4 linked regions of the Homo sapiens genome follow. The protein of the gene in region 1 interacts with the protein of each later gene in a biochemical or structural test. Each region holds a gene or a part of one and is shown in the gene's direction. Other genes may lie near its edges.

Region 1 (7,026 bases):
ATACCCATTCTGGCCTGTAGGGATGATAATTGCTAGCATGCATCAGGAAGCAAGCTTGTGAACAATCCAGTTTTTCTAGTACTTGCTTCATACTAGGGAGAAAGTCATCAGTTACTTTGGCATAGAATTTTAGGTTCTTCATCTAATAGAATTTGATTGTGACCATTAATTTTTGTTTATCTTACGACTTCATCAGTAGATGTTCAGATTTTTCTCATTTTGTTGGCAGGGAGGAAATGAGGAAATATATCTACGTAAATAGAGAGAAACTTCTAAATTAAAACATCCTGTTGTGCTACCTGCTCTTTCGGTGTCAACAAACTGAGTTTTCCTTTAAATGCTGGTACCTTAGAGAATGAACTAAAATTTCCTTGTAGAGATACTTTTAAGTTCCTTGTTTCTACATTTTTCTAGGGAAAGATGACAATTCACTAGTTAAGGGGCAAGAAATTATGGTTACATAATAGCAACCTTTAAGCTTTAGAATCCTTTTGATCTCTATGTGAATATGATCTTAGCAGTCATCTGTATTGCATGATGGAGAAACTAACGGTTGGAGCTGGATTCTGAGGGAATTTTTCTAAGGGGAATACTTGAGGAAACAGACTAAAAGTGCTTTCTGTCTCATGATATGTGTGCTGAAGGCCAATCATCTTACTGCTTTCTCAACTAAAAGATTTTCTAATAGAGGTGTGGTTATATGTATCTGATACTTGTAATGAGATGTAAATGATCAGTGGCCTCAAGTCATTCCTAGCAGATTGTAGGTTAGTTAACTTTTTTTTTTTTTTTAAATTCTGGCCAGTTCTTTATTATGTAAGTTTTTCCCGTACTGGTTAGTTTATTTTATTGTTTTCCCTAAAAGAACCAACAGGAGGTTATTTCTGAATGGCCTTGACCAGGACAAGAAGATTGAAGGCTACAATAAAGTAGATATGAGTCCTGTCTATTATTATTATTTGCCCTCAGCTAAGAGCTTTCCTTTAAAATTTGTTTGACATTTTGGTAAGTCTTTGGCATGTTTTTATGCTGTTTTTAACTCCTTGATTTTGTTTTTATTTTTAAAGCTAGATAACATTAGCTTAATAGGCCAGTTTTAAAATTTCACTGTAACAACCTTGTATAGTTCTTTTAAAAGTTGACAATTCTCTCTTTTCCTTAAGTGAGCATTGGAGTTCATAATTGATCTTTAGGAGATAGGGTTACATAAAGGAAAGAGCATTAATTTTAAAATTAATGTTGGTTTAGATCCCAGATCTGCCATATATAGCTGTGTGACCCTGAATGAGTTAACTCTTTGCATTTATAAAACGGGACAATGTCACCTGCCTCATAGGATACTTAGGATCAAATGCGTTTCTAGGAATCCCTGAGTGCTTTGCAGGCCATAAATGATGGATGGATATTTTTGTTATTTACTAAACGAGTTAGCTGGTTTGGGTTTCTGTATAGTGAACTTTTTGTATAGCGAACTGATTGGACTTCTGAATGGAGGAGATGGACAGAAAGTAATCCAAAGGCTTGTTGAAAGTCAGTTTGAATCTATAAATACAATGATTGGTAGCTGAAAAATATTAGTCAAAATGTATAGTGTTGCTCCTGATGAGAGCTGGCTGGCTTTTTTCAAAAAGTAGTCTAAGACAATAAAAACAGTCTGTATTTTATAGGTCAGATGTGTGCTACCTTCCTCTGTCCACGTAGGAAATAATTGCTTTTTCACTTTTTAAGAATGCATCAGTTGATCAAGCAGTCACTCAGTGTGCTAGGCCTTGTACTCCACATTGGGTGTCCAAAGATACAAGTCTGGATTCCTACTTTTTTTTTTTTTTTTTTTTTTTTTTGTGAGATGGAGTCTCACTCTGTCACCCAGGCTGGAGTGCAGTGGCACGATCTTGGCTCACTGCAACCTCTGAAGCCCGGGTTCAAGCAATTCTCCTGCCTCAGCCTCCTGAGTAGCTGGGATTACAGGCGCCTGCCACTGCGCCCAGCTAATTTTTGTATTTTTAGTAGAGACAGGGTTTCGCCATCTTGGCCAGGCTGGTCTTGAACTCCTGACCTTGCGATCCACCTGCCTCGGCCTCCCAAAGTGCTGGGATTACAGGCGTGAGCCACCACGCCTGGCTGGATTCCTACTTTAAGCTCACAATCCGGTGTGGGAGCCAGCAGAGACACTTGCATTGCAGTAAACTGTGATAAGGGCCATTTTAGAAATAAGCATAGGGAAATTGTTATGTGCCTTTCTTTTAAAAGTCTTTAAAGAAAGCAGAGTACGTGTAAAATAAATGAGGTACATAGTAAGTTTCCCTTCACTGGCTGACCATTGGTTTTTTAAGTTTTGTGTGGAATGTACTGTGGTTGCCATTTATTTGAGTGCTTACTGTTTTATATCATAAACAGGTTTACTCCTTACAGGAACCCTAGTAAGTAGATTTGCCTATGTTTTTTTTTTTCTTCACAGAGTCTTGCTCTGTCGCCTAGGCTGGAGTGCAGTGGCGTGATCTCAGCTCACTGCAGCCTCTGCCTTCAGGCTGCCTCAGCCTCCCAATTAGCTGGGATTACAGGCGCCTGCCACTATACCCGGCTAATTTTTTTATATATTTAGTAGAGACGGGGTTTCACCATGTTGGCCAGGCTGGTCTTGAACTCCTGACCTCAAGTGATCACCCTCCTCGGCCTCCCAGAGTGCTGGGATTACAGGCGTGAGCCACCACGCCCAGCCCAGATTTGCCTGTATTATGGATGAGAAAACAAATTCACAGAGGTCACATAGCCTGTGGACTTGGTGTGCGGTACTGGTAAATCAGACTGATAGGCTTCATTATGTCAGTGGGCCCCAAACTGTAGAAATTATTCATAAGGTCAACCAATTGGGCTGTCTTTATGGATCAGAATTAACATAGTGTCTTTTGGATTGATTACTTAAGCCAAGAAGTCAATTTATTGTCATATCTACCATTAAGTCACATGTGTAACCTTGCGCCTGTCACTTAACACCCTCAGTAAGTTTAATCATGGCTAATTGGACATAATTAGCAATGATATGCAACAGCTGATGTGAAAGAGGGAAGGGATTTTGAAATAATAGAAATGCAGTTTCTCTCCAAATTCAGTGTTCACTGGACTTAGTGCTAATGACTTTGTATTACAGATATGCTGTGTTTTGTTTCCTAACAAAGAACCTGCAAATGTTTGAATGGAATTAAATTTATTACAGGACTCTAAATTTTATATGTAGAATGGCACACAGACAGTTTTATAGTGGGTGTTTTTTAGTGAGTAGTTTTCTCTGAGAGCCAGGAGTGTTTAACTTTTTCTGGGTAACACCCACTAACCACCTGGTCCCACTGACTTTCTCAGTCCCTTCTGCAGTAGCTTGGCATCTGATTTTTCTTCAGCAGAGAGACTCCAGAACTAAAACTTCTGCTGTACAGTGCTGTGGATGCTCTATCTGGAATGGTACATCTGTGAATGCTGTTCAGAATATGTGATCAGTTCCTTACCCCATTGAAACATTCGAGCCTAGATTTTTCAGATTTTCTTGTCAGTTTTCTTCCTTATTCTCATTTCTTTATCTGCTTTGGCCTTTGATTTTTATCTCATCTAGAAAAACATACATGCACTTTATTAATAACATCTCTTTTTAAGTCACGACCTAGCTACCTTTAAACCTATTTCCTCTAGTTCTGTCTGGTTGGCTTTCTAAGGAGAGGCATTGTAACCCTTAAACGTGTGCTGTTTTTTTTTTTAATTGATGTGTAATAGATATACATGTGCTCTTTTCTTGTGTTTCTACCACTAGAGTTTAAGCTCTCTGAGGGGAGGACTACACTGCTTTCTTTTAAATTCCTCTCAATGAATAATCCAAAGAGTTCTTAGAAATTTGGTAGTTTTTCATTTTGTTAGTTATTTCAACACACATTGGATTATATGTGTTACATTTTTGTGAGGTAGCTTAAGAATAAAAAATAAGAATGGCTTATGAGCCTTTACTCTAACCAGCACTATATGGGCATTTTATGTTCATTATCTTATTTGATAGCTATTAATGTCTCTTTTTAACACTGAGAAAACAGATTCAGGTAAGTTATAATGTGGAAATGTAGAAAAATCACCTACTTTCTCTTTAGAAGCTCAGATGTGTATGTAAGGCTTGCTAAAAGCAGACCCCACCGTATATTTTATATGTATAGAGCTTGGGTAATTCCTGACATATAATAATGGAGTCTTCATCTGAAATTTCTAACAAATTATTAAATTCAAAGCTTATTATTTTCGAATCGAGCATGTTCTTTGCCTTGAAAACAAAACATAGCTGAAAGCCAGTGCTTCTAAAGGCCACAGCTGTCATTTTCAACCCTTTCTGTCTTTGCACTGCCTTTATTTAAAAAAAAATGGATTAGCAGTAGGTAGTCTTCTTTTTCTTTTCTTTCTTTCTTTTTTGATTCTTCTCCTAGGATATCTGCTCTAGCCACTGGGAAATAACTTCTCAGTATTTTGACCCTGACTAGAAAGATGTCCCTTGGGGAAGGAATTGGGATAGAGGGGCTAGGCTGTTTCCTAGATCCTCTATTTTCAGCATTTATTATCTGATTTAGGATTTTGTTTCTTTGAAGAAAATCCTATTTTGTGAGTACCTTTAGAATTATTTTTCATAGCTGTTTATCTGCACTAGTGGTTTCTCTTTAAACAGAAAAACACTTTTTTTCTTAAAAAAAGAAATAGTACCCAATTTTTAAAAAAGTAATACATACTTGAAGAAAATTTAAAAAGATAGGAAAATGAGGATATAATAATGTTATTACCCAGAGACAGAACCAGTGTTAACCATTTGGTGTAACCTTTCTGTTCGGGTTTGTTTGTTCTTTAGGGGATATTTTACAGAAATAAAATATTGTGCAGCCTCGTCCCTCCAGCCCCCATTGCTCTTAAATAAATCTTTTCATGACATTAAATCTCTTCTTTTGATGGCCACGTAATCTTGTACCATCTATCTCCTTCCCTCCCCTGCCTTTTTTTTTTTTTTTTTTTTTGAGACGGAGTTTCGCTCTTGTCGCCCAGGCTGGAGTGTAGTGGCGCAGTTTCGGCTCACTGCAACCTCCACCTCCTGGGTTCAAGTGATTATCCTGCCTCAGCCTCCCGAGTAGCTGGGATTACAGTCATACACCACCCCGGCTAATTTTTTTGTATTTTTAGTAGAAACGGGGTTTCACCACATTGGCCACGCTGGTCTCGAACTCCTGACTTCAGGTGATCTGCCTGCCTTGGCCTCCCAAAGTGCTGGGATTACACACGTAAGCCAGTGCACCTGGCCAGTCTCCTTATTTTTTAAACCATTCCCATATTGTTGGATATTTAGATTTGCTTCCATTTTTTCACTAAGCAATCTCTGCGTTTATCAACAAATGCTTCCCAGTCCTGACTTGCTGCATCCAGTGGCTTAGAACAGATTGACAGCCATCATCATCATATAGGTGTGCTGGAGAGCTCCTGTTCTCAAGCACGTCAGTCTCTTCCTGAAATATGCCCAGCACAAGGAAAATCTCTTGGCTTACTGCAGGGTTGGGCCTTTTGTGGCCTCTAATGAGTTTGCCTGCGCCAGTATCTTGATGCTTCTGCAGTGGTGCCAGGCCTGACGATGAGACTATAGTCTTTCAAAAACTTTTTAGGAGACAAATAAAGAGTATCTTGCTGACTTTTTTTTTAGTGGGAACCTCATTCAAAGTCTTGGAACAACAGTAGGTCTTGATTAAAAACCATCATGGCATATCACTAGAAAATTCAATTAGAAACTAATGGATAAACTTCAGTTACATTTAACATATATGTCCATTTTAACATAACATACTAACTATCTGTACAAGATTAATCTAGACTTTTGCTTTTCCTTCTCACAAAATTGTATATTTAAAAAGAAAATTCAAGCTTATGGTTTTATGGGCTGCTACAGTGTAATAGTCGTGGAGAAGAATAATAGTACTTCAGTTTGATTTTGCACTATGCATTTTTCAAGGAAGATTTCCACATTTAGTATTCTTTAATTCCCTGCGCCTCATCTTCACAGCAACTCTACTGAGGTAGATGCCATCTTCATTTTATGGATTGGAAGGCTGAGATTTAACATGCTCACATGGCTGTATAGTGGCACATTGCGCTGTGACACACAGTCCTGCTGCCTTCCGACTATACTACATATAGGTACTCTGTGTTCCTTGTGCTCTCCCAATAATGATTTGTAGAAAAACTTGATATTCATTTGCATATGAGTTTTGTGCTTAGCACAGTTATAAGCATTAAATGTGAAACAAACATGAAGCTTTCCTTTGAGGGCACACACGTGAAGCTGTAAGTGGTACAGTACTCATCTGTATCACAGAATGGCATAAAGAAGTCCTAGACCATGTAATAGGCTATAAGTATATTCAGAGTCATAGGCAAGGTAAATCAGTGAGGGCTAGGGCAGTCAGGGAAGGGTTTGTAGCCCTAGAAGAATGGGTGGAGTTCAGATAGGCAGGCAGTAAATAGGAGAGCACTCTAGATGAAGGGAACTACAAAAGCAGTTTCAGACACGTTTGAGCATTGTGTTTATAGGGCATGTGGTGCTGGCCAGCCTGAGAGAAAGGTACATGTTGGAGAACAGTGGATGAGAAAGCCAAACAAGTAAAGAGGAGACAATTTATCAGGAATTTGAAAGCCAGGTAGAGCTTAAATTTGATGGAGTAGCCAAAAGGGAGTCATTGGAAGTTACTGAGTAAGGACAAAGGCAAGACTAGAGGTAATTTAGGAAGAGTAATTTTTTGTTTGTTTTGAGACAGGGTGTCTGTCACCCAGGCTGGAGTGCAGTGATGCAGTCATGGCTCAGTGCATCCCTGGCCTCCTAGCCTCAAGCGATTCTCCCATCTCAGCCTCCCAAGTAGCTGGGACCACAGGCATGAGCCACCACACCTGGCTAATATTTTATTTTTTGTAGAGACAAGGTCTTACTATGTTGCCCAGGCTGGTCTTGAACTCCTGGTCTCAAGCGATGCT
Region 2 (7,433 bases), on another chromosome or scaffold:
CTCGTGTCCCTCACGTTCCCCCACTGCATACCCAGGCACACAGGCTCTCGCAGCCCCAGATGCCAAGGCGCACACCTTTGCACCCGCAAGCACACATACTGTTCACACAACCGGGTACACATGACGGCTAGCCCAGGCCCGCCGCCCACGCAGTCGCAGGCCAGGGTACACACGGCCAGCGCCGCCCTTGGCCACGCCCGCTCAGGCCCAGGCAATCGCGCCAGGCGCACACACGGCGCGAGCACACGTGCCGCGGGTACACGATCCCCAGCTCGCCCGCGCACTCGGCCAGCTCTCACACCCCCGCGTTTCCCGTCCCCGCTTGTTTTTCTGGAAACTCTGCTCTCCCCTCCCCTCCCCCTAGGCCGGAAGTGTTGGCTGTATTTTTAGCCTCTCTGGTTTCCGCCCCTTTCCTTCTTTCCCCGCCCGCCCAGGACTGGCCCCAGCGCCCCGCGGGGGGACCCCGGCCATCCCCTTCCCCACCGTCATTCCAGAGGGGATTCCCGGCCGCCGCTGGGGCCGCGGATTTTCCCGCTGGCTACGTAGGGAGCAGGGAGGAGTCCTGCCATGAACTTCCTTCTGGCCTGGGACGCCCGAGATCTGAGGGGAGGGCTGAGGGCCTGGTCTCCTGGATCTGATCGAGGACAGGCTGGGGGTCTCCCGGGTCTGAGGGAGGAGGAGTTAGGGGCCTGAACCGCTGGATCTGAGGGAGGAGGAGATGGGGGCCTGGACCCCTGGGTCTGAGGGAGGAGGGGCTGGGGTCTCGGGGGACCTGAGGATCTGAGGGAGGAGGGGCTGGAGGCCTGGACCCCTGGGTCTGAGGGAGGGGGGGTTGGGAGTCTCCCGGGTCTGAAGGAGGAGGAGTTAGGGGCCTGGACCCCTGGATCTGAGGGAGGAGGAGCTGGGGGCCTGGACCCCTGGTTCCGAGGGAGGAGGGGCTGGGGGCCTGGACCCCTGGATCCGAGGGAGGGGGGTGCTGGGGGCCTGGAGTCCTGGGTCTGAGGGAGGAGGGGCTGGGGACCCAGGGCCCTGGGTTACTGCGAGGGAGGAGGGACTGAGGCCTTGGCTCCTGGGTCCCCCAGGTCTGTGGGTTTGGGGAGGTGGAGGACCAGTCCTTCTGCGAGCAAAGCATCCCCCTCCTTTGAGAGTGGCCCTATCCCAAAAGTCCTGACTCTTGGGGCCGATGACTCAGCAGATGGGAGAGAGGAGGGGGACAGCCTGACTCAGGGATGGGAAATGCTCCCGGTCTCCAGGGAGTAGAAACTGGAATCCCTCCTCCAGGATTGATCGCAGCCCGAGCTGAGCCGGGCTCCGCGAACCCAAGGATGCCCCCAACCCCCCTTTCCCCGCCTCAATCCTTTAAGCTGCGTAAGGATTTGGAGATCGGCCTAGAGGCGGGTCCCAGGTCCCCCTCCTCCCCCCTTTTTCCCCGTTGTCCTCAAGGCTCTGTTTACAGGAGACGGGAGCCCTGGTTACAGGAGAGGAACCCGAGTGTCCGGGCTGAACCTCCTCGTCACGGCTTCCAGGAAGCCCCCACTCCCCCGCCCCTTGCGAGTGAGTCACGGGCGAGCAGGAGGCCACAACCGTGCCAGAGCCGCCCGCGGCCCGCCCAGCTCACGAGACCGGCCCGGGAAGGCCCCTCAGCAAGCGCCGCACCAGGGATTCCCCCCCGCCGCTCTCGGACGAAGCAGGTCGACGTGGAGCCTGGCAGAATCTCCCCACCTTAATACAAGCCCGCAGCCTGCAAGAATGAACTTTCCACCATTATAACTGCGCACTGTGGCAATGATTTCTACCCCCACATTTTCACTCAGGGCATCCAGCTCTCCAGCACCCCTTAGAAAATAGTCTTCCTAGATCTTAAGAGGGTTTTCACTTAGGGCGACCCTTTGATAACAAAAGATGTGCCAGTGTGGGGAATGATCCTTGAAAATGTAGTCTGGGCGGGGTGCGGTGGCTCACACCTGTAATCCCAGCACTTTAAGAGGCCGAGGCAGGTGGATCACCTGAGGTCAGGAGTTCGTGACCAGCCTGACTAACATGGTGAAACCCCCGTCTCTACTAAAAATACAAAAATTAGCTGGGCGTGGTGGCCGGCGCCTGTAATCCCAGCTACTCGGGAGGCTGAGGCAGGAGAATCACGTGAACCCGGGAGGCAGAGGCTGCAGTGAGCTGAGACCGCGCCATTGCACTCCAGCCTGGGCAACAAAAACGAAACTCCATCTCAAAAAAGAAAAAAAAAAGGAGGCCCGGCCGGCTTGGTGGCTCACACCTGTAATCCCACCACTTTGGGAGGCCGAGGCGGGTTGATCACGGAGGTCAGGAGATCGAGACCACCCTGGCTAACACGGTGAAACCCCGTCTCTACTAAAAATACAAAAAATTAGCCAGGCGTGGTGGTGGGTGCCTGTAGTCCCAGCTGCTCGGGAGGCTGAGGCAGGAGAATGCGTGAACCCGGGAGGTGGAGCTTGCAGTGAGCCGACATCGCGCCATTGCACTCCAGCCTGGGTGAAAGAGCGCGACTCCGTCTCAAAAAAAAAAAAGGAAAATGTAGTCTGAAGGCACACCCCACTATAAGAGACCCATCCAGCCATCAACTGAGGATGACCTTTTTTTTTTTTTTTGAAAGCTTTTTTCAATCAATGCAACCATCAGTTATAGTGAAAGACCTCCACCTTGCCAATCTTGAGTTTTCTCAGAGGGCAAACCTCGACATAATTTCAGACCCTAGTATGAGGCCTGTGCCATTTGCTAGCTCGAACTAGGAGAGTAACTTTATTTTTCCCCCTGAGAGGGAGTCTCGCTCTGTGGCCCAGGCTGGAGTGCAGTCGCCTGATCTCGGCTCATTGCAACCTCTGCCTCCTGGGTTCAAGCGACTCTCCCACCCCAGCCTGCTCCCTCCCCGCCCCCGAGTAGCGGGACCACAGGGTGTGCGCCACCACACTCAGCTAATTTTTGCATTTTTGTAGAAATGGGGATTCGCCGTGTTGCCCAGGCTAGTCTCAGACTCCGAGCTCTAGTGATCCGCCTGCCTTGGGCGCCCAAAGTGCTAGGACTACAGGTGTGAGCCGGGCAGGAGAGTAACTTCACTTTGGTTTCCTCCTGCCTTAAATGGGCATACCACCTGGCATTAGGATTAATGTGCGTAAAGTACTTAGAACTCAGCCCAGGTGAGTTCTCCTTAACTCAGCCTAGAAGAGATCATCCGCCCGAGGGTGAGGGGGCTAGAGCCGCCCTGTGAATTGGGAAAGGAGGCCCCTTTTCAGCCTTGCCAGGTATCCTGGACCCCACCCAACCCACTCACTCACCCACCCAACCCCAGCAAGTGGGGAGAGGGAGAGCAGTCCAGGTCTCCTTATCTGTCTGGGCTGTTTAGGAGTGAGACCACACAAGGCAGGCAGTTCTCAGAGAATTCCCCTCCAAGGCCTGCTGGCTCTTTCTTGGCACTTTGCTCTGCAGATTTCTTTCCGTAAGTGCTTATTTCTCACAGTCTTTCTCCTTTTTGTCCAGTTTCTTTTTCTTTTTAATTTTTTTAAATAGTATTTTTTGTAGACATGGGATCTCACTGTTGCCCAGGCTGATCTTGAACTCCTGATCTCAGGTAATCCACCTGCCTCATCCTCTGAAAGTACTGGGATTGGCCGGGCTTGGTGGCTCACACCTGTAATTCCAGCTCTTTGGGAGGCGGAGGTGGGAGGATCGCTTGAGCCCCGGAGCTGGAGATTAGCCTGGGCAACATAGGGAAACCCCGTCTTTCAAAAAAAAAAAAAAAGAAGAAGAAAAAGGAAAGAAAAACACAAAAAGTGCTGGGATCACAGGTGTGAGCCACTGCGCTCAGCCCCTTTCTGTTTCTTTTTGTGATCCTCCCAACCCTCTTCTCCCTCTGAATCTGTCTCTGGGACTGTCTCTGTCTCCCCGTCTTCCCTCCCTTCCTCACCCTGTCTATCTCTCTCTGTATGTCTCTTGGTGTGTGTGTCTCTCTCGATGTTTTTCTCTCTGCCTGTCTGCCTGTCTGTACCCCTCTGCGTCTCTCCCCGCCCCCATCCGTCTGTGTCGCACGCGCACCCCCATCGGGCTTCTGCTCTTGTCAATTGCCCCTGGGGCCCTGCCCCCACCTCCGCCCCAGTTTCCTTCTACAAGCCTCAGTCTCCAGCTTTGAAAACTGGGCAGGCGTCCCCCCATCCGCACCCCCACCCCTTCCCCACGCATTCCCCGCTCGGTCACGGCTGTCCACCGGCCAAGCTCAGGCGCGTCCTGGCCCAGGGCCGGGCGGAAGGGAACCAGTCCAGGGCCAGCCAGGCTGCGCCGGGGGCGCGCGTCCGGGAAGCGCCCCTCCTGCCCCGCCCCCGGCCCCGGCCCCGGCCCCGCCCCGTGCTTGCAGTTTCCTATAAGTAGCCGGCTCTCGGTGCCAGCCTCAGCCTGACTTCAGCGCTCCCACTCTCGGCCGACACCCCTCATGGCCAACCGTTACACCATGGATCTGACTGCCATCTACGAGGTGAGTCCCCGCCGCACGGCATCCCCGGTACCTGCATGCCTGAGTCCGAGTCCCCACCTCTCTAGCGCCGCAAACTCCAGCCCGGGACGCTTGCCTCCCTTCTCCAACTGGGGCTCCCTAGCGCCGCGCCCTCCAGCCTGGGGCCCCTGCCTCCCGCTCAGACCAGCTTGGTGATTTGGAGGTGAAAATGGAACCCGCGACACCCGGCTCTTCGCTCAAACATGGGTGGGGCGGCCCATGCAAGTGGAAAGTCGGAGAACTTTTCTCAGACCGAGGCTGCCTGGAGGCGGAAGTGGCCCCCATACCTGGCTCACCCCTAGTCGTTGCTGAGGGCGTGGTTTTGCGCGGAGGCGTCTCTGGGGCTGAAGTCTCAGGGTGGGGGGATCCGACTTCTGTCTCTCCAGTCCCTGACCGTAGAGACAGAGAACCCTAAAACCGAAGCAATCCGGACTTCCAGGTCAACTTTGCCCGGTTTCTCCAGTTGTGAAACTGGAGATCCCGACGCGTGGGTCATATCCGGGGAGGACAAGAGACCCAAAATTGGGAAACAGTGGTGCGCCCTGACTTCGGGGTCCCCCTCTTGGTCCAGCCGGGGAAGCCGGGATTCCTGGGTCCCTCGGGATAAGGCCTCGGTGGTGGGTAAACTCAGAACCTCCAACTCTGGGTTCCTGGCATCCGGAACCCAGGGGTTTCTGCGGGCGGGTGGGGCTCAGGCGGGGAGCCCACAAACCGGCCTGGCAAGCTCTAGTTCCCTGCAGCTGGGGTGGGGCGTCGCCCTGCATTTTCAGGTGCCTTAACCGACCCATTTCCGCAGAGCCTCCTGTCGCTGAGCCCTGACGTGCCCGTGCCATCCGACCATGGAGGGACTGAGTCCAGCCCAGGCTGGGGCTCCTCGGGACCCTGGAGCCTGAGCCCCTCCGACTCCAGCCCGTCTGGGGTCACCTCCCGCCTGCCTGGCCGCTCCACCAGCCTAGTGGAGGGCCGCAGCTGTGGCTGGGTGCCCCCACCCCCTGGCTTCGCACCGCTGGCTCCCCGCCTGGGCCCTGAGCTGTCACCCTCACCCACTTCGCCCACTGCAACCTCCACCACCCCCTCGCGCTACAAGACTGAGCTATGTCGGACCTTCTCAGAGAGTGGGCGCTGCCGCTACGGGGCCAAGTGCCAGTTTGCCCATGGCCTGGGCGAGCTGCGCCAGGCCAATCGCCACCCCAAATACAAGACGGAACTCTGTCACAAGTTCTACCTCCAGGGCCGCTGCCCCTACGGCTCTCGCTGCCACTTCATCCACAACCCTAGCGAAGACCTGGCGGCCCCGGGCCACCCTCCTGTGCTTCGCCAGAGCATCAGCTTCTCCGGCCTGCCCTCTGGCCGCCGGACCTCACCACCACCACCAGGCCTGGCCGGCCCTTCCCTGTCCTCCAGCTCCTTCTCGCCCTCCAGCTCCCCACCACCACCTGGGGACCTTCCACTGTCACCCTCTGCCTTCTCTGCTGCCCCTGGCACCCCCCTGGCTCGAAGAGACCCCACCCCAGTCTGTTGCCCCTCCTGCCGAAGGGCCACTCCTATCAGCGTCTGGGGGCCCTTGGGTGGCCTGGTTCGGACCCCCTCTGTACAGTCCCTGGGATCCGACCCTGATGAATATGCCAGCAGCGGCAGCAGCCTGGGGGGCTCTGACTCTCCCGTCTTCGAGGCGGGAGTTTTTGCACCACCCCAGCCCGTGGCAGCCCCCCGGCGACTCCCCATCTTCAATCGCATCTCTGTTTCTGAGTGACAAAGTGACTGCCCGGTCAGATCAGCTGGATCTCAGCGGGGAGCCACGTCTCTTGCACTGTGGTCTCTGCATGGACCCCAGGGCTGTGGGGACTTGGGGGACAGTAATCAAGTAATCCCCTTTTCCAGAATGCATTAACCCACTCCCCTGACCTCACGCTGGGGCAGGTCCCCAAGTGTGCAAGCTCAGTATTCATGATGGTGGGGGATGGAGTGTCTTCCGAGGTTCTTGGGGGAAAAAAAATTGTAGCATATTTAAGGGAGGCAATGAACCCTCTCCCCCACCTCTTCCCTGCCCAAATCTGTCTCCTAGAATCTTATGTGCTGTGAATAATAGGCCTTCACTGCCCCTCCAGTTTTTATAGACCTGAGGTTCCAGTGTCTCCTGGTAACTGGAACCTCTCCTGAGGGGGAATCCTGGTGCTCAAATTACCCTCCAAAAGCAAGTAGCCAAAGCCGTTGCCAAACCCCACCCATAAATCAATGGGCCCTTTATTTATGACGACTTTATTTATTCTAATATGATTTTATAGTATTTATATATATTGGGTCGTCTGCTTCCCTTGTATTTTTCTTCCTTTTTTTGTAATATTGAAAACGACGATATAATTATTATAAGTAGACTATAATATATTTAGTAATATATATTATTACCTTAAAAGTCTATTTTTGTGTTTTGGGCATTTTTAAATAAACAATCTGAGTGTAAGCTGGGATCCTGGCTTCTTCGCGGTCTAGAGACAGGAATGGAGAGGGAGGGGGTGACTTTTTGGAAGCTGGGTGCAGTTAACTCTTCCTCTCCGAGCCCCGCGGCGCTTACCTGGCAGGAAGTGACGTCACCGGGCCTGGCCGTTCACCTGAAAGGGTGGGACCAGGTGAGGTCACCAGATGGGAACCGGGGGAGCCAGTTCCCGGGCGTCGGGGGCGCCGCGCTCCCGTCCTGCTGGGCTCCTTGACCCAGCTTCGGGCGGGTGCGGTCGGGGACGGGATGTTTCCGTCCCCACGGGGCCGCGGGAGGCGGGAGGGGCCGGGTGGGGAGGACGGAATGTGCTGGGGCGCGCGCCCAGAGCGAGCGGGGGCGGGCGCGGGGCGGGGCAGCCTGGGGTAGCGGAACCCGTTTCGGGACTAGAGGTTCCGGGGGGGCTTCGACACCTTCTGGATGTTG
Region 3 (7,026 bases), on another chromosome or scaffold:
AGACAAGTCCTTGGGCCTAAGGACTTTATAACCTGGTATTTCACTCAACTACATGATAGCATAAATAATGTTTGCTTCTGTTTAAGTATTCCTTAAACATTATAGATCTCCCAAAGAAAATTAAATACAAACCTCTTTTTAAAGTGAATTTGACAAAGCAAAATAAATTGGAATATATAGATAAATATGCTAAAATTTGTCATATGTACTTTGCGTACTTTACATGTGTTATTTCATTCTCAGGGCAATCTAAGACAGTCACTTTTATTATCTCATTTTATAGAGAAGAAAGCTGTGCAGTAAAGAAATCAAATACCTTTCCCAAGGTTACAGAGCTAGTAGTAGAGCCTGGATTTGAATCTGGGTTCTGACTGATTTTTAACTGCCATGACAAGGATCAAAGCTCAAAGTGTGATCTCTGTGTTAGAAACATCGGGGTTGCTCTTTAAAAAAGCCGATTCTCAGGCCTCAACCCAGACCTACTGACCCAGACACTGCAAGTAGAATCCATCAAAATGCAGTAGTTACTTTGAGAATCATGAAACTCTGCTACACAGTCTGTCTTCCTATTCATGGAAGTCCTCTCCTAGTATATAAATGTGAAGTAATATTTCTATTTCAAACCTGTATTGATAACTGTCTGGAAGATAATTTTCCTGGGAATATATTATTGATGAGACTGCAAAACAGATGTGAGGTATTGGATTGATCTTTCCATTGTAGCTAGGGAAATACTGATGTTCATTGTTTCAGTGAAGTTCAATGATTTCCTATCCGAATTAACTCCCTTAATTTAACAATTTTTTTTTTTTTTTTGAGAGTGAATGCCCCTCTGGGCTTCTAGGCCACATGGTTGCTAGAGAAATTAGGTACTGTGTTGCACTTGAAAACACTAAAATCTTTCTGACTACTTTCACTGAGCAAAGAGACATAAAATGCTTTAAATTTGCAACATTTCAGAAAATAAATTTTAGTGATTATTTATGACTCGAATCTTTCAGATTTTGACAGTGAAAGTGGAAGGTTGTCCAAAACACCCTAAGGGCATTATTTCGCGTAGAGATGTGGAAAAATTTCTTTCAAAAAAAAGGAAATTTCCAAAGAACTACATGTCACAGTATTTTAAGCTCCTAGAAAAATTCCAGATTGCTTTGCCAATAGGAGAAGAATATTTGCTGGTTCCAAGCAGGTAAAGAAAACCTTAAAAAATTAATTGCTACATGGAAATTCACTATCTATTCTTTTAATTGTCAAACTAACTGTAGTCTATAATAGATGTATTAAATAAATAAATATATTTTGCTTCTAGTGTAAACCTCCTACTGACATGTATCATTTATTTTGGAATAAAACATTGCATCTGACACTTTAACAATATAGTAAATCACTTACTTTATGTGTATAGTTACTAGTTGGCTTATCACTGTTGAAATTATTTAAGAAAGGTAAATAGTGGAGATTAATGTGTGTGTGTGTCTGTGTTTGTGTATGTGTGTGTTCTTAAACAACACTGAGAGAGTTTATTAAGCAAGTTCTGAGAAGATAGTGAGTTTTCAACAGAATTTTAAAAGCATTTATGGCATCACAATGGATGCCTATGTTTTAGCCTATACTATGGAAATTTTTCCTACTGCTCTAAGCAACTGGGAAATTTATAAAGTAATATGATGTTGAAATGTGCAAATTACATTGATTGATGGATGCAGCCAATTTTAAAAATAAATATACACTTTTTTTCTAGGACATGTATTTTTCAGGATTTATATAAGATTACATTTGTCTATGCATAACTAATTGTAATAATTTATGTATTAGTGCACAGGGATTACCGAAAATATTTCATGCATCTACATCTGAGCATGCATTTGAATTGGTTATTGACCACTGAATTTTTGGTGTAGGAAAAATATGTAGTGAAACAATGTTACAAAAAGATTACAATTGTTTGGAATGATTACCTTCATTGACTTTAAGCAGTAAAATCATTTGCTCAACAAGGTTGGGTGTTTTGTGAGGCTGTATAACCATAGTGTCCTTTTGCCTTTAGTTTGTCTGACCACAGGCCTGTGATAGAGCTTCCCCATTGTGAGAACTCTGAAATTATCATCCGACTATATGAAATGCCTTATTTTCCAATGGGATTTTGGTCAAGATTAATCAATCGATTACTTGAGATTTCACCTTACATGCTTTCAGGGAGAGGTAAGTATCTAATGAAGACTTATTAGATTTTTAGAGACTATTAATTTAGACTTATTAATTTTTAGAGAAATTAGGGAGATGGCATATGAAAAGTAATATGCCATTTTCTCAGAGTTTACTTGTTTGGAAGGCAGCTGAAGAATTAGAAAATAAGCTCATAAAACCTTGGAGTAGGCAATCTAAAGACACACAAGCACATATAACCTCATCTAATTTGTCAGGAAGAAAATTCCTTAGGTGCTCACTCAGATCTTGACTGTGATTACATTGTAGGGACTGTAATTATCTCTTTTCTGTTGCACAGCCACTAAGACATTTACAAAAAAAGAGCAAATCCGGTGTTTATAATGCTAACTCTTTCTTCTAAAATAAATAGAGACATTTTGGTACTCCAAAGGGAAAATATCATTTTGGGGATTAAAATTAGCTTTACACAGGTGTTACTGGTTTCCAAAATAAACCTTACCTTGATTGGAATTAATCAACATATAGGTAGTTACATTGCATTAAAAAGTTCAGAAAGTTTTGCGTTTAGCATGATCAAAAACTTCTTTTTAAAAATTATGAGGATTTATTTATGATTTTCTTTCTTCATCTGTCGAGCATATTAAACTGCTTAACAGCATCAACCTGAAATGGATCTTAATGTGCAGGGGATTTAACTCTTTTTATTGTAAAGTTGTGGATAAAATATTTAATAGATATGGATGAGGACTCATATCAGTAACAACCCAATACTTTATTTCAAAATGAATAGATCTGTATTACAATCACTTGTGTTGTGTGCAGTAGATTTTTTCCCTTTAACTTAGGAAGCAGTTAATAATTAATGGCTCCATTTTTTAGAACGAGCACTTCGCCCAAACAGAATGTATTGGCGACAAGGCATTTACTTAAATTGGTCTCCTGAAGCTTATTGTCTGGTAGGATCTGAAGTCTTAGACAATCATCCAGAGAGTTTCTTAAAAATTACAGTTCCTTCTTGTAGAAAAGGTAAGGAAATCAATTTGAATGTTTTCAATTGCAACACTAAAGAAATTTAAACTTAAAAAAAAAAAAAACTTTACCTTAAAGCTTTGCGACAGTATGAGGTTTAGACAAGGTGTTGAGCTCTGTTTTGAATCATGTAGGCTGTATTCTTTTGGGCCAAGTTGTGGACCACATTGATTCTCTCATGGAAGAATGGTTTCCTGGGTTGCTGGAGATTGATATTTGTGGTGAAGGAGAAACTCTGTTGAAGAAATGGGCATTATATAGTTTTAATGATGGTGAAGAACATCAAAAAATCTTACTTGATGACTTGATGAAGAAAGCAGAGGAAGGTATGTTTTGATACAACTTACAAATGCTTTTAAGTGATCCTTCAATACTTATGAAGTGACTTTTAATAAATGTAAATATTCTTATCCATAAGGGATGAGTTGAAAAATAGTATATTCAATTATAGGGACAGTTCAGAAAACTGAATTATATTTATTACCAATAAAATCTTGTATTCTAGATTCAGAAAATGTTGATTTGAGGGTTTGAATGCTGGCTTATTGAGCAACATAACCTCATCTGTGAAACCGGAATACCAACCACATCTATCTCATAGAACTGTTATAAAGATTCAAATAGACAATACATGGACCTAATTTACCAACATGTCTGCCATATAATAACAGCTGCAGCTTCATGAATGTGGCAAAAGCAGAGAGTAGATAACTTTCTAGTCAGATGTCTGGTAGTCTGCAGCAGTTCAGAATTCTACAAGTGAACGTAGGAATAAGTTTTTAAAATTCCAAGTAGATAGATACTAAGTGAATCTTTAAAATGTTCTCAAATTTCCTAGAGAAATATAGGATTGGTTAGAAAGGGAGGGATTAGAAATTATAGAAAATATTCCATTATTTTTTCACATCAAAACCACAAATTTATGTATCTCCTTAAATGTTGTTTTTATTTAAAAAATGTTTTATTACTTCTCAGGAGATCTCTTAGTAAATCCAGATCAACCAAGGCTCACCATTCCAATATCTCAGATTGCCCCTGACTTGATTTTGGCTGACCTGCCTAGAAATATTATGTTGAATAATGATGAGTTGGAATTTGAACAAGCTCCAGAGTTTCTCCTAGGTAATTCTTTTTGTTAATTTGAGAATAAAAATTAGGATGTAATTTTCTCCTTATAATTTAGAAAATAGATTTCATAATTATATTGTCATAGATTTTACTGTCTTCATATATTTGTTATAATTTTTGTATTTGGAATGATATATTTTAAAGGAATATAATATTACAGATCTGGAATTTGTTTTGCACATAATCATGTAGACTAGGATCAAGATGAGGATGAGATTATCATGGAAGCAGAAATATTTATGAAATATATCTTTGTATTTGCCTTAATTGCCAGGGATATGGGAGGCAAATAAGACAGTTTTCAGGTGAGTTAAGTGAAGCAGCCATATTTTATAAAATGACAGAATAGGTAAAGGAAGCACACCTCAGTGTAGCCATAGCAGGGGTTTTATGACTCAGTGTGACAATGCTGAATTCTCATAGAAATATTCATTAAAAGCCTTGAAATTAAAGTCAAAAGTGTTACATGGTGACATACTCAAATACTTTTTTTTTTTTTTTTGATATGCTGAACAATTTACATTTCTTGGTTCCGTGAATTCAATCAGTGATTTTCAGTAGAGTATGATGGAAATCATTGAATTCATGTAGCATGTTTAGGTGCTCATTGAGAAAAGGTGAAGTCATGGTAACCATGTTTCAATATTCTCATTTGTATCTTGACTTCCTGCACATGGATTTTTGGGCCTAAAAGATGTTTTTAAAACATGCTCATACACTTCAGAAGATGAAAAGTGTATGCATTATAACTACTTTGGGAAAGAAACAGTCAACATATGTTACTGTATGTCATTCTGTAGATTACATGTGTGGTTTCTCATGTCTCTCAGAATAAAAGCTAATGTCTTTACAAGACCTGCGATGCTGTGATCTGTCTGGCTCCTCGGTTATCATTTTTAAAAAAAGATATACTTTGTACAAATTTTTTTAATTGACAAGTAAAAATTGTATATATTTATGGTGTACAACATGATGTTTTGATATATGTATATGTTGTGGAATGGAGAAGTTTAGCTATTTAACATATACATTATCTCAAATATTTATGTGGTGAGAACTATTAAAATCTACTCTCATAGCAATTTACAAGTATACAGTATGTTATTATTAACTGTAGGCTGACATACTCAAGTTTTAAACATTCCTGAGAGTCATTGGGACAACTATGAAATGCATTAGATTGATTTAATATAAAGCATTTGAAGACAATTTTGACCTTACTTTGTTTAGTTTTTGTTGTTGTTGTGTGTATACATTTAATTTTAATCAAATTACCCCAGAAATAATGCCTAAGATCTGTCAGTCAGGACATAATATTATTAGCAAAAAGTTGTCCAAAATTTGAGACATGATATTTAAAGCTAAATAAACTCCTTTATACCCCTCTTATTGGCATTGATTGGGAAGTTTAGGTTGAATTTAAATGCTTTGGAACTCAGGAAGTTAATGTATTAGTAATAGTGGGTTAACATAAAATGCTGAATTGTCCTTGCTGAATCCTACATCTTAACCCCAGACTTCAAGGTATACAGGAAAGTACCAGACATGGTGCATCCTTCCTCTGAAGAAATCCCAAACTGTCAGACACAGATCCCTAAAATATTTCTTTTTCCTGCATTAAAATGTGTTTCAGATGAATGGACACGTTTTGAGTAGTGTATGTGGAAACGTCATTTACAAAGTCTGTTTAGTTGGCCAGGTGTAGTAGCTCACTCCTGTAATCCCAGCACTTTGGGAGGCCGAGGTGGGTGTATCACGAGGTCAGGAGTTGAAGACCAGCCTGACCAAGATGGTGAAACCTCATCTCTACTAAAAATACAAAAAAATTAACTGGGTGTGGTGGTGGGCATCTGTAATCTCAGCTACTCGGGAGGCTGAGGCAGAGAATTGCTTGAACCTGGGAGGCGGAGGTTGCAGTGAGCCGAGGTTGTGCCACTGCACTCCAGCCTAGGCGACAGAGCGTCTCAAAACAAAACAAAACAAAAAACAAAAAAGCAAAGTCTGTTTAGCTACCCATATAGGAAAATGTTTGTGATTACTCTCCCTTCTCTAGACCCATGTCCCATAAATCCATAAATCCCATGTTCATTTACAGAAAGCAGTCTAGATAGGAGTTTCTCAGTCTTTGAGCTGTTGCCATTTTGGCTTGGATAACTAACTCTTTCTTATCGAGGGTCATCCTGTGCACTGCAGAATGTTTGGCAGCATCTCTGTCTATCCACTAGATGTCAGTAGTATCTCCCCTTCCCTCAGATGTGACAATCAAAAATGTCTCCGGATGTTGCCAAAGATAAGGGGTGGGGTTGAATACCAGTGATTTAAACAAATTAGGTGTATCCTTCTAAAAACATTTTACAGGTAGCGACTCCAGCATCTTTATATTAGAGTAATCTGGAGAAGGTTATGCCTCTCTCAATTTTCCCTCTTTCCATTTTTATTTGTAGGGCAGCAATGCATTCAGGCTTTTGGTAACTCTTTTTCCCAAGATAGCAGTAACTATTATGCAGTGAGTAATACGACCCACCTTAATAGATATGAATAGACTTGTTTTGTGAATATATTTTAAAATATAAATGTATGGGATTCTGTTCATGCGTCTGAGAAGCCACAGGGTACATTTCCTCTTTGTGGAGCTATTTATTTTTCTGGAGAGCCAAGACAGGTATTTCCACTTCAGTGGTGTGATTTGAGGGGTTAGGA
Region 4 (7,026 bases), on another chromosome or scaffold:
GTCTCAAAAACAGATAAACAAAAAGAGAATAACAACAAAAAAACTTAAGAAAAGTCAAAATTGGATTGAATGTGAAGGAGGGCAGTGTCAAGGATGACCAGCTTCCTACTTGTACAATCAAATGGAGGATAATTACCTCTTAAATCTTTATTTGCCTAGCATTTTAAGATTTTCATTTTCAGACTTTTTGTTATTTATAAAGCAGAGATATTGAGTTATTTAAGAAAAAACTTCTCACAAACTGTTTATAGCATATATTAAAGGGAAATCTTTTTTCCACTTGCACATTTTTTCTGGCTAAATGAATGATTTGCCTCTTAGATTCTAGATAAGACAGTTCTGTGATTTTTAAAGTGTAAGTTTCCACCTTCAGCACAGTTTATTTTAGAATTACCTAGAGTGGAGATGGCTTGTCTTTCTGCCTGCTAATCTAGAGACAGGTAAAGATAAGTGAGATTAAGCAGGCAGTTGCTGATGAGTTGTACCTCATATTGTCCAGGAAGACACCAAGGTGTTATGGACATGATTCGCCCATATAGCTCAGTAAGTGCAGCAACTTACTGCACTAGAAACTTTCCCATAAGTGAAATTATGCAAATATGTTCTTTGACTTTGTAAAATAATAGATTACTTCCAGCAAAACAAGAGGACTCTCAGGGGAGGTGGTAGGACACTAAACAGGAAGTGGGATTATGGGTGGAGCTGTTCACTGAGGAGGGCTGGAGAACAACGTGGAGAGAGATGTCCACAGGAGAATGGCATTCCTATTTGCTTTCCTCTGGTACCAGATAATTTTGCTTTAAGACAACTGATATGTTAGAGAGGGAATTGGGTTGGAAATGTAGCATTTTCCCGAAACATACAGTAGTCCTTTAAAATAAAAACTTCCTGATCCTTTTAAACTACCCTTCAATATTTTATTATTCTAAATGGAAATAACTTTGTTGTTTTCACCTTTCCCAACGTCTTTAATGTTACAAGGAAAACTGTCTCCTTTTAACATTTGCATATATTCAAATTAATAACTATGTTAGTTTCTCAAGGCCACTGTAAAAATTACCACAAACTTCGTGGCCTAAAACAATTAACATGTGCTGTCTCATTGTTTGGCGGTTAGAATTCCAAAGGCACTATCACTAGGCTGAAATCAAGGTGTCGGCAGCGCTGTCCTTCCTCTGGAGGCTCTAAGAAAGAAATCGTCTTTCCCTCTTTCAGTTCCTGGTGGCTGCCGACATTCTTGGGCTGCATCACTCCAATCTCTCTGTCTCCGTGGTTATGCTGCTTTCTGTTCTGTTCGCATCAAACCTCCCTCTGCCTCTCTCTTATAAGGACACTTGTGATTTCATTTAGCACCTACCTAGATAATCCAGGATAATCTCTCTCTCTCTCAAGACCTTTAACTTAATCACACCTGCAAAAGGTAACATTTCCAGGTTCCAGGAATTAGGATATATTTAGGGGCCATCATTCAGTTTACTATAATAACTATTTTTTATATCCACTCAAGAAGAGTCTCAGATGTCCATGAATGAAATAAAGCAATAAATATCAGATTAACCCTACTGTTTGCAAAGTCCTTTAAATGAAAATGTCATTATACTTTACATTATACTTTATACTTACATTATAAGTATACATTCTACATTATACATTATACTTTACATTATACTTTATACCTTACATTATACTTTGCTCACAGAACATTTATATAATTTTATCTTGTTTCAGGAAGTACATAAGGCAGTTTATATGGATACTTGAAATGCAACAAGATAATGTAAATTAAAAATAGATGAAAGAAAATAAATGAGGATAAGAAGAGAAAAGGAAGCAAGGGATGAAGCTCTAGAAAAATGAATATAATCACATTACTTTTATTGATATTGCATGGAAGATAAATTCTTACTTTATAAAGGAAGTATGGCATTTTGTTATAAAATGATAAAAGAACCATTCTTCCTTCTGTCAAACAGCAGCAGGTCCAGTCTCTTATACAGGCATACCTTGGAGATAGTGTGGGTTCAGTTCCAGATCACCCCAAAGAAGTGAATATTGGAATACAGCGAGTCACACACGTTTTTTGGTTTTCTAGTGCATATAAAAGTTATGTTTATACTATACTGTAGTTTGTTAAATGTGCAATAGCATGCTATCTAAGAAAAGGTACATACCTTTATGTAAAAGATACTTTTTGCTAAAAATTGCTAACGATCATTTGTGCCTTCACTGAGTGGTAAGTGTTTTACTGGTGGAGGGTCTTGCCTGGATGTCGATGGCTGCTGACTGATCCGAATGGTGGTTGCCGAAGGCTGAGGTGGCTGTGGCAATTTATTAAAGTAAGACAACGAGGAAGTTTGTCACATAGATTGACTATTCCTTTCAAGAAGATTTATATATAGCCTGTAATGCTGTTTGGTAGCATTTTGTCTGCGATAGAACTTCTTTCAATATTGGAATCAATCCTCTCAAGCCCTGCCACTGCTTTATCGACTAAATTTATATAATTCTAAATCCTTTGTTGTCATTTACACAGTGCTGTGAACATCTTCACTGGGAGTAGATTCCATCTCAAGAAACCACTCTTTGCTCATCCATAAGAAGCAACACCTCATTCATTCAAGTTTTAGCATGAGATTAAAATGTCATAAATTTAGTTACATCTTCAGGCTCCACTTCTGCTTCTTTTGCTGTTTCTACCACATCTGCACTTCATTTCCTCCACTGACATCTTGGACACCTCAAACTCATTCAGGAGGGTTGGAGTCCACATCTTCCAAACTCCTGTTAATGTTGATATTTTGACCACCTCCCATGAATTACGAATGTTCTTAATGACATCTAGAATGGTGAATCCTTTCCAGAATGTTTTCAATTTATTTTGCCTAGTTCCAACAAAAAAATCACTATCTATGGCAGCTGTTTTCTTATGAGATGTATTTCTTAAATAATACGACTTGAAAGTCAAAATTACTCCCTGATCCACAAGCTGAAGAGTGGATGTTGTGTTAGTAGACGTGTGAGCAATGTTAATCTCTTTGTACATCTCCATCAGAACTCTTGGGTGACCACGTATGATATTGTTTGGCTGTGTCCCCACCCAAATCTCATCTTGAATTGTAGCTCCCATAATTCCCACATGTCATGGGAGGGAGCCATTGGGAGGTAATTGAATCATAGGTGCCGGTCTTTCCCATGCTGTTCTCATGATAGCAAGTCTCACGAGACATGATGGTTTTATAAAGGGGAGTTCCCCTGAGTATGTCCTCTTGCCTGCCACCATGTGAGATGTGCCTTCCATCATGATTGTGAGGCCTCCCCAGCCATGCGGAACTGTGAGTCCATTAAACCTCTTTTTCTTTACAAATTTCCTAGTCTCGGGTATGTCTTTATTAGCAGCATAAGAATGGACTAATACAGGTGTGTTATCAACCAGAAGTAATATTCAGAAAGAAATATTTTTTTTCTGAGCAGTAGTTCTTAATAGTGGACTTAAAATATTCAAGAAACCATATTGTAAACAGTTACCCAGGCTTTGTTATTCTATTTATAGAGCACATTTTCTAAATCTATAGATTTAGAATAATTATTTATTTATTTGTATTTGCATTTTCATAGATGAAAGGTCTTGCTCGGTTGCCTAGGCTGAAGTACAGTGGGATCATCATAGCTCACTGACACCTTGAACTCCTGGGCTCAAGCAATCCTCCTGCCTTGGCCTCACAAAGTGTTGGGATTACAGTCATGAGCCACTGCATCTGGTTACAGTTAGAATAATTCATAAGGGCCTTAGAACTTTTTGAATAGTAAGTGAGCATGTAACTTAAAGTCACCAGCTACATTAGCCCCTAACAAGAGAGTCAGCCTGTACTTTGAAGTTTTGAAGCCAAGCATCGACTCCTCCTCTCTAGCTATAAAAGTCCTAGCTGACATCTTCTTCCAGTGTAAGGCTGTTTCATCTATATGAAAATGTGTTGTTTAGTTTAGCCACTTTCATCAACTATCTTAGCCAGATCTTCTGGAGAGCTTGCTGCAGCTTTGGCAACAGCCCTTGCTGCTTCACCTTGCACTTTTATGTTACAGAGATGACTTTTTTTTTTTTTTTTTTTGAGATGGAGTCTTGCTCTGTCACCCAGGCTGGAGTGCAGTGGCACGATCTTGGCTCACTGCAACCTTCACCTCCTGGGTTCAAGCAAATTCTCCTGCCTCCGCTTCCTGAATAGCAGGGATTACAGGTGCGTGCCACCACGCCCTGCTAATTTTTGTGTTTTTAGTAGAGATGGGGTTTCACCATGTTGTCCAGGCTGGTCTGGAACTCCTGACCTAAGGTGATCCACCTGCCTCAGCCTCCCAAAGTGCTGGGATTACAGGCATGAGCCACCATGCCAGGCCTGAGATGACTTCTTTCCTTAAACCTCATGAACAAATCTCTGCTAGCTTCCAACTTTTGTTGCACAGCTTTCTCATTTCTCTCAGCCTTCATAAATTGAAGAGACTTAGGACCTTCTCTGGATTAGATTTTCACTTAAAGAAATGTTGTGGCTGGTTTGATCTATCCAGACCACTCAAACTTTCTCCCTATCAGCAATTAGTCTATTTCACTTTCTTATCATTTGTGTGTTCAGTGGAATAGCATGCTACGTTTCTTTCAAGAACTTTTCCTTCACATTCACAACTTGAATCAAGAGGCCTGCTTTTGATCTATCTTGGCTTTCACTGTGCCTTCCTTGCTAAGTTTAATCATTTCTAGCTTTTGACTTAAGGTGAGAGATTTGTGTCTCTATGTTTCACTTGAATACTTAGAGACTATTATAGGGTTAATTGGCATACTATCAATATTGTTGTGTCTCAGAGAGTGGAGAGGGCCAGGGACAGGGAGAGAGATAGGGAAATGGGTGGCTGGTGGAGCAGTCAGAACACACACAGGATTTACTGGTTAAGGTCACCATCTTATATGGGCATAGTTCATGGTTCTCCAAAACAATTCTGATGGTAACATCAAAGATCACCAATCACAGATCACCATAACCGATTTAATAATAATGGAAAAGTTTGAAATATTGTGAGAGTTACTAAAATGTGACACAGAGACATGACATGAGCCCATGTTGGAAAAATGGCACCAATAGACTTGCACAACCTGGGGTTGCCACAAACCTTCAATTTGTAAAAATAATATCTGTGAGGTACAATAAAGTGAAGTGCAGTGAGGTATGTCTCTAACTATTAAATTATCCAAGGAAAAAATTATTTTGCATTTTATGTTTCATATTTAAAATTTTGTATTGAAGTTTAGGCAATATAATAATAAACCTCAAACTATGGAAGCAAGCTGTTATATATTTTGATTTATGATTTTTAAGAGTATTATTAAGACTATTCATACAATTTTCAAAGTTACCTCCTGTAGTTTTGTTTCCTGTTTAAGTAAAGGTTTTGAAATAGGTGATGATGCATATTTTAGGTGAAGTCAGTCATTTGCAACAAATCATATACCACTGTTTTATTTTAAATTATTTTAAAATCTAATTATACAAATGGCAGCTGTTGTAGTAGATGGGAACATATTTTGAATTGCCTTCCCTGTTATACACCTTATTAATTATCTGGGTAGGCAGAATCTGAGAATTTCTTCAAAAACTTATAAGCAAAGGAGTCCATTTTTGTGGCCTATAAGAAGATGTGCTACTTAGTAATTTATAGTAAATAATAAACAAATACTTCAGCAGATATTGATTCATTAAATATTTTAATAAATACTTATTGATTACTGCAGTAATAGCAAATATTTGACAAGCACATACTATTGGGAGGGAAAAGGGCATAGTGATTAAGATCCCAGGATGAAGGTAAACTGCCTGGATTTTAATTCTGACATGTTACTTACCATTAATATGACCATGAACAAGTTATTCATTTCACTCAATCTTGGTTTCTACATATGCAAAGTGAAGATAGTAATAGCTCCAATATCATAGGATTGTTATGGGGATTTAACATGTTAATACAAGCAAAGTGCTTAAAGCAGGGCCTAGCACATGGTAAGTAGTATATAAATGTTTGCTGTTGCTTTTATTAGCATATGCTGAAAACTTTGCATCCATTATTTTATCAAAACCTTATAATAACATCATGAGGTAGATACCTTTACTTTTAACTCATTTTATAAACAGGGAACTACGAGTCAGAAAAATTAAATGAAGAAGACAGGATTCAACTCCAAGTTTAATTGAGTCCAGAGAATGAGCTTAACTACTATACTGCACTGTGCCTTAATGTGTGCTGTGCCACACGTGCAAAGGGGAAGCTAAGATGAACTTGACATGGTGTCATCTTTTCAGGAGGATAGGCAAAAAAGAGTTGAGAGTCGTTCCTGTGGGTTAACACCTAGAACTAATGAGAGGACATATTTCCATCCCAATGGGATTTTTTGAGTGCTAATGTGCTAATTAGAGCTAATTCACATTGAGGGTGATAATAGCAATAACATTTTAGTGTTTTTACAAATGTCAAATACCATGGCATGCACTTTTTTAAAAAGCATGTTATTTAGTCAGGTGCAGTGGCTCCTGGTACTTTGGGAGGCCAAGACGGGAGGATCACTTGAGCCCAGGAGTTCAAGACCAGCCCAGACAACATAGCAAAACCCTGCTTCTACAAAAAATAAAGAAGTAAATTGGGCATGGTGATGCATGCATGTATTCCCAGCTACTTGGGAGGCTGAGGTGGGAGGATTGCTTGAGCCCAGGAGTTTGAGGTTGCAGTGAGCTATGATTGCATCATTGCACTCTAGCCTGGGCTGGACAAAGTGACACCCTGTCTAAAAAAAAAAAAAAAGAACAAAAACAAAAAACTCCAAACATGTTATTTAATAAGTACAACAGGCCGGGCGTGGTGGCTTATACCTGTAATCTCAGCATTTTGGGAGCCTGAGGTGGGCGGATCACCTGAGGTCAGGAGCTCAAGACCAGCCTGATCAACATCGTGAAACCCCCTCTCTACTAAAAATACAAAAATTAGCTGGCGGGC

The links.
Region 2: the proteins of YWHAB (region 1) and ZFP36 form a complex in vitro, tested with the Homo sapiens proteins (2 studies listed by BioGRID).
Region 3: the proteins of YWHAB (region 1) and LRRK2 interact on a protein array, tested with the Homo sapiens proteins (2 studies listed by BioGRID and IntAct, with this or other methods).
Region 4: the proteins of YWHAB (region 1) and TPD52L1 form a complex in vitro, tested with the Homo sapiens proteins (one study listed by IntAct).

Annotation. Positions count from the first base shown.
Region 1 is NC_000020.11:44,888,686-44,895,711, forward strand, and holds part of YWHAB (14-3-3 protein beta/alpha), read left to right. Parts: intron 1-7,026. UniProt on the Homo sapiens protein: Adapter protein implicated in the regulation of a large spectrum of both general and specialized signaling pathways. Binds to a large number of partners, usually by recognition of a phosphoserine or phosphothreonine motif.
Region 2 is NC_000019.10:39,402,431-39,409,863, forward strand, and holds ZFP36 (mRNA decay activator protein ZFP36), read left to right. Parts: upstream 1-4,416; 5' UTR 4,417-4,474; coding exon 4,475-4,498; intron 4,499-5,312; coding exon 5,313-6,269; 3' UTR 6,270-6,977; downstream 6,978-7,433. UniProt on the Homo sapiens protein: Zinc-finger RNA-binding protein that destabilizes several cytoplasmic AU-rich element (ARE)-containing mRNA transcripts by promoting their poly(A) tail removal or deadenylation, and hence provide a mechanism for attenuating protein synthesis.
Region 3 is NC_000012.12:40,318,987-40,326,012, forward strand, and holds part of LRRK2 (leucine-rich repeat serine/threonine-protein kinase 2), read left to right. Parts: exon of another isoform or gene 1-989; intron 990-1,001; coding exon 1,002-1,189; intron 1,190-2,047; coding exon 2,048-2,202; intron 2,203-3,048; coding exon 3,049-3,195; intron 3,196-3,332; coding exon 3,333-3,524; intron 3,525-4,173; coding exon 4,174-4,320; intron 4,321-7,026. UniProt on the Homo sapiens protein: Serine/threonine-protein kinase which phosphorylates a broad range of proteins involved in multiple processes such as neuronal plasticity, innate immunity, autophagy, and vesicle trafficking.
Region 4 is NC_000006.12:125,156,764-125,163,789, forward strand, and holds part of TPD52L1 (tumor protein D53), read left to right. Parts: intron 1-7,026.